Regions from separate parts of the Homo sapiens genome. Here region 2 is linked to region 1. Evidence: fine-mapped expression QTL. A gene starts in region 1. The other region holds a variant in brackets. All regions are shown on one strand. Distances are between the middles of the regions. Region 1 holds the start of MYADM (myeloid associated differentiation marker). Region 2 overlaps PRKCG (protein kinase C gamma).

The links. PIP is the estimated chance that this variant, and not a neighbour inherited with it, causes the effect.
Region 2: its variant is fine-mapped to the expression of MYADM in whole blood (TOPMed, PIP above 0.99).

The regions. Positions count from the first base shown.
Region 1 is chr19:53,866,753-53,869,650 of GRCh38, reverse strand. It overlaps MYADM (myeloid associated differentiation marker), which reads right to left and starts at 1,768. Exons shown (of 3, transcript NM_138373.5): 1 at 1,708-1,768. MYADM-AS1 (MYADM antisense RNA 1) reads left to right here and starts at 544. Exons shown (of 3, transcript NR_184033.1): 1 at 544-742. RefSeq lists a silencer at 153-212 and enhancers at 1-878, 1,988-2,898.
Region 2 is chr19:53,888,790-53,891,687 of GRCh38, reverse strand. It overlaps PRKCG (protein kinase C gamma), which reads right to left. Exons shown (of 18, transcript NM_002739.5): 4 at 1,939-2,050; 5 at 1,671-1,802; 6 at 1-14. Among named protein-coding and RNA genes, the nearest start is that of PRKCG, 8.0 kb to the right of the region's middle. The variant T/C (reference allele first, on the strand shown) is at 1,107.

The DNA.
Region 1 (2,898 bases):
CTGGCGGTGACCCCGGGTAAGCCCCGCCCCCTCCCCTCCCCGTTCAGTTAACTGTTTGGGCTGCGGCGGACGGAACCCAGCGAAAGTGCACGCCCCGCGGGCCGGCGTGGGCGCGTGTGTGATCTTAACCCCGCGGGGGCGGGGGTGCGGGCGGCAGTGGCGGGAGAACCCTGGGCGGCGGCTGTGGAGGCGGGCGGCCCAGCCAGAGCCGGTGTCTCCGCGCCTTATAAGGGCTTCGAGTCGGCCCAGGCATCTGGAATGTGTCAGGGACCAGGAGGCGGTGCCCGGACCCCCGCCCGCCTCCGGGGCTGCCCGCCCTCTCCCGGATTTCCGGGGGGTGGGGACCCCGACTCTCAGGGTTGGAGGCCTGCATTTCTGGATCCCTATAAACATGGGCTGAGAGCCCCCCCAAGAGCATCTCTAAGACCGGAGTGGGCAGGGACCCGGGCCTCTGAGGGGCTCAGGCTCCAGGCCGGAAACTGCACGCGGTGCTGGCGTCAGGCCCGAGGCCCAGCTACGCCTCCCACGGCCTCCCTAATCGCCATTCGGGGCTTGCGGGAGCACCTGGGAGGCTCCACCCGGAGCCAGACACTGCCTGCCCCCACGCCCCTCCAGGACCCTCGAAGGAGAAGGAAATCGGGACTGGCCCAGCGTCCCGTGCTCTAGAAGGCGGGCTACTGCCCCGTCCCAAGCAGGGGAGGAGGACGAGCGAGGGCGTCACTCATTCTGTCCCCCGCGGAAGGTGGGCTAGCCGCGGAGGGGGGCGCGCAGGGGAGGGGGGCGCGCCGAGGGGAGGGGAGGGGAGGGGTCCACCCCGCCCTTAGGGCCTCCAGCCATCGCCCGAGATCAGAGCTCAGGAATGCGCAGCCAGACCCTGGAGGGTGAGGAAACACCCCTCCGGGATTCCTCGCAGCGCACCCGACTCTCCGGGCCACACCCAGCCCCTCAGTGTCCTCCCTCGTCCACTCCAGACGCCACACCCATCGCTCACGCTGAGAATCGGGCCCCGGAACCCCAGCTTCGGCTCTCGGCACCCAGAGGTGCGGGACGCAGCCCTGTCTTCTCCTCCTTTCCCAGCTCCTTCTGCACTTCGGAAGCACGGGGCTGGATCTTAACACCCCCCTCCCTCGGCCTTTCAGGAGCCCAAAGTTCCGATTCTGTCTGTCCCCTGGATGGGGAGGGGTCAGTAATTCTGAATTCCTTCCATTCTCATTCCCAAACCCAGGACACCTAACCCTAAGCGCTTCCCCTCCTAAAGGACCTCCACGTACCAGATTCCAGCCTCCAACTAGGGCACCTACGAGTCCCCATCTCTCTACTCCCGCAGACCCAGCCCCTCCTCCCTCAGACTCAGGAGTCCAGGCCCAGCTCCTCCTCCCTCAGACCCAGGAGTCCAGGCCCTCAGCCCCTCCTCCCTCGGACCCAGGAGTCCAGACCCCCCAGCCCCTCCTGCCTCGGACCCGGGAGTCCAGACCCCCAGCCCCTCCTCCCTCAGACCCCGGAGTCCAGGTCCCCTTCCCCACTCTTCCAGACGTATGACCTCCACAGTCCAGGTCCTCAGCCCTCTCCTCTGCAGAACCCCAAGAATCCTGGCCCAGCCCCAGTCTTTCTAGGGACCCAGACATTCTGAGACCCAGCCCATTCCTCTCTCTGGCCATAAAGACCCTAGACTGTTGCTTATGCCCTCTGGGGTCCCCACAACCTCACCTCAGGCAGCCAGTGGCGACTGCGGCTGAAGCAAAGACGACAGCGGCAGCTGGAAGGGTCTGAGGGCTGGGTGGGGTTGGAGGGCTGGGGAGCCAGCGCGGGCGGGACGGGGGCGGGGCCGGGGCGGGGCGCAGCTCCGGCTAGGGCGGTGGACAGGGACTTCCCCGAGTCTGGGCTATCCCAGCCCCGCCCCGAGGCGGGGCCAAGAGCAGACCACGCCCCCCAGAGTAAAAGTAGCGTGGAGCTCCCGCCCCACCCCAGTGAGCAGGGTGGAGGGCTGAGGTCACGGTTGCCGTGGTGACAAAACAGGAAGACACAACAGCTGGCGGCGTGGAGACTCCTGGGGGCTGCCCTCCTCGACACAGCCCTAGAGGAGTCTCCCGGGTAGGCCAGGGAAGACCGTTACCATAGAAACCCCGCATGTTTAGGGTTTGTTTAGTGCAGAGCCCCCCAGCTCAGGTCCCCGCCCCCGTCTCACCTCACTCCTTTCTTCCGCTCCCTTCCTACCCCCTCCTTCCTGGTCTGTTCCGCCCCCACCCCTTCCTTGCCGGATGAAACCTTAGACACCTGGGTCGCAGCGGATTGGGGGACCAGGCCCCTCAGTTCAATGGGGGGGCTAGGATCTCTGTCTCTTGGAGCCCTGAGGGAGAGCAGAATTGAGAGCAGTATTCCTGGGCTTTAGGTGGTTCTGGGCTACGATCCCTGACTGATGGGTCTCCCCAAGAAACAGAGGCTAGATTCCTGTATTTAAGGACTTGAAGGGGCGGCAAAATGCTCCCCTAGTACCCACTGGCACCGGGCGCCGCAGGGTAAGGGACTCGGGCTGGACGCAGGTCTCAGATATCACAGTGGATAGGGGTGGGGTGTGTTGGGGGCAAAATTCCTGGGAGCTAGCGCGGTAGCAGTTGGGGGCCCGGATTCCTGGGCTCCACAGGATGCCTAGGCTGAGGCCCAGATTCTTGGCTCAAAAGAACAATCAGGCCTGGGCGCGGTGGCTCACGCCTGTAATCCCAGCATTTCGGGAGGCTGAGGAGGGAGGATCCCTTGAGCCCAGGAGTTCGAGACCAGCCTGGGCAACATAAGGAGACTCTGCTCTATTAAAAATAAATCATCATGATCATCATAATAGAACCATTAAAGCTCAGACTCGGGTTTTCCGAGCAGGTGTTGCAAGCCTAGCCGCCTGGGTCT
Region 2 (2,898 bases), 22 kb before region 1:
ACGGGCCTCGCCAACTAAACGGGGAGTGAGGAAGAGTGTGACGGGTTAGAGATCCAGGAAGGGGCTCCCAGCCCTCCTCCAGTCAGCAATCAAGAGTTCCAAGCTTGGCCAGGCACGGCGGCTCATGCCTGTAATCCCAGCACTTTGGGAGGCCAAGGCGGGCGGATCACAAGGTCAGGAGATCGAGACCATCCTGTGAATGGTGAAACCCCGTCTCCACTAAAAATACAAAAAAAAAAAAAAATTAGCTGGGCGTGGTGGCAGGTGTCTGTGGTCCCAGCTACTCAGGAGGCTGAGGCGGGAGAATGACGTGAACCCAGGAGTCGGAGCTTGCAGTGAGCCGAGATTACGCCACTGCACTCCAGCCTGGGCGTCACAGCGAGACTCCGTCTCAAAAAAAAAAAAAAAAGAATTCCAAGCTCTCAGTCTCGTTTCTCATGACTTCTTACCTCTCCAGAACCCAGAAGACAGGGCATAGAGCCCTTTCCGCAACCAGTGACCCTGAAATCAGATCCAGAGCCCTTCTCTCCATTAGGAACCAGAGTTTGGACCCTGGCCATGTCACCAGTACTGAACCACAGCCTCCCTCAGAACCAGGTACTCTCCCTTCTCAAGATCCTTATACCCAGAAAGCCATTGCCGGGCACGGTCCTCACCCCTGTAATCCCAGCACTTTGGGAGGCGGAGGCGGGCGGATCACCTGAGGTCAGGAGTTCCAGACCAGCCTGGCTAGCATGGTGAAACCCTGTCTCTACTAAAAATACAAAAATGAGCTGGGTGCAGTGTCATGCACCTGTAGTCCCAGCTACTCAGGAGGCTGAAGCAGGAGAATCGCTTGAACCTGAGAGGCGGAGGTTGCAGTGAGCTGAGATCATGCTACTGCACTCCAGCCTGGGCAACAGAGCGAGATCTTGTCTCAAAAAAAAAAAAAAAAAAAAATTAGCCGGATGTGGTGGCAGGCGCCTGTAATTCCAGCTACTCGGGAGGCTGAGGCAGGAGAATCCCTTGAACCCCGGAGGCAGAGATTGCAGTGAGCCAAGATTGCACCACTGCACTCCAGCCTGGGTGACAGAGCAAGACTCCATCTCAAAAAAATAAACATAAAA[T/C]AAAAACAAAAAAGAAAGCCATTGGCCAGGCGCGGTGGCTCACGCCTGTTAATCCCAGCACTTTGGGAGGCCGAGTCGAGGGGATCACCTGGGGTCAGGAGTTCGAGACCAGCCTGGCTAACATGGTGAAACCCCGTTTGTACTAAAAATACAAAAAATTAGCCGGGCTTGGTGACACGCGCCTGTAATCCCAGCTACTCGGGAGGCTGAGGCAGGAGAATCACTTGAACCCGGGAGGCGGAAGTTGCAGTGAGCCGAGATCGCGCCATTGCACTCCAGCTTGAGCAACAAGAGCGAAACTCCGTCCCAAAAAAAAAAAGAAAGTCAAAGTCATTAACAGGTGCAGAAAGTTGCAAGAAGCCAGGTTGGAGGCGGGGCTTCGAGCCAAAAGGGGTATGGCTGGGTGTGCTCGGCCTTTGGGGTGGGGTCAGGAGTGTGGGCGTGACCATAGAAAGAGGCGTGGCCCCATCTTTGGGGTAGGGCTGGGCCAGCACAAGTGCCTTGGGTCAGCCCCGCCTCACACTTGGGGAGGGGGCGGGGCCAGGCGAGGGGGCGGGGCCTCACCAGTTACGTGGATCTCATCTGCTGTGGGAGCCCGGATCTCCAGCTGCAGGCGCCCGCGGCGCTCGGTGTGGTCCACACCGCACAGGGAGGGCACGCTACGCACACAGCGCCGGTGCACGTTCATCTCGCAGCCTGGAGGGGAAAGCTGCGGGTAGCACCTCAGGCCCCGCCCCCAAGCCAAGACTCCACCCCCCACCCCATCCCGGGCATTTCCCGGAACCCAGACCGGGCGCTTTGGAAGGGCCCTGGCAAGGCCCAGGTCACTCACAGGAGCATTTCATGCCCTGGTGCACAAGCCCGTAGAGGAGGGAGCCACAGTGGTCGCAGAAGGTGGGGCTGCTGTAGCTATGCAGGCGGAACTTGTGTTTGTTCCGGGGGTCCTGGGGGCAGAGAAGACTGGCTTAGGGGGCGTTGGGAGGGTCCTAAAACCCCAGGGGAGGGGCCCTTTTATCTTTTCCTCCTGCCTTGCTCTCTAGGTCAGCCTGAGGCTCCATCTCTTTCACTCTATGTACCAATAATCATTGAGCACCTGCTGTGTGCCAGGGACTGTTCTTGGTGTGGGGACCCAGCATTAAACAAATGAAAAAAAAAAACCTCTTTGTCACATGGAGTTTACTTCCTAATGGAGGGATACAGAATGTAAACATGGTAAATAAATAAAACATATAGTTTGATGGTTGGTAATGGGTGCTCTGGAGAAAAAATGAGGCAGGGATGGGGACCACCAGAAGTTGGGGGATTGAAATTTTAAATACGGTGGTCCTGGCTGGGTGCGGTGGCTCATGCCTGTAATCCCAGCACTTTGGGAGGCCGAGGTGGGCGGATTGCCTTGAGCTCAGGAGTTCCGGACCAGGCTAGGCAACATGGCAAAACTCTGTCTCTACTAAAAATACAAAAATTAGCCGGACATGGTGGTGCATGCCTGTAATCCCAGCTACTCAGGAGGCTGAGGCATGAGAATTGCTTGAATCCAGGAGGCCGAGGTTGCAGTGAGCCAAGATTGTGCCACTGCACTCCAGCCTGGATGACAGAGCAAGATTCTGTCTCAAACAACAACAACAACAACAAAACTGTGTGCAGGGGGAGTGGCAGGGGGGCCTCGCTGACCAAATGATATCTGGGCAGAACATGAAGGAGGCAGGAGCTTCCAACCTCCCATAGTTCCCATCCCCCCAACTCCCACAAGTTATTATTTGAGGACTTGTGGGCCACCCTGAACCCCAGCTCC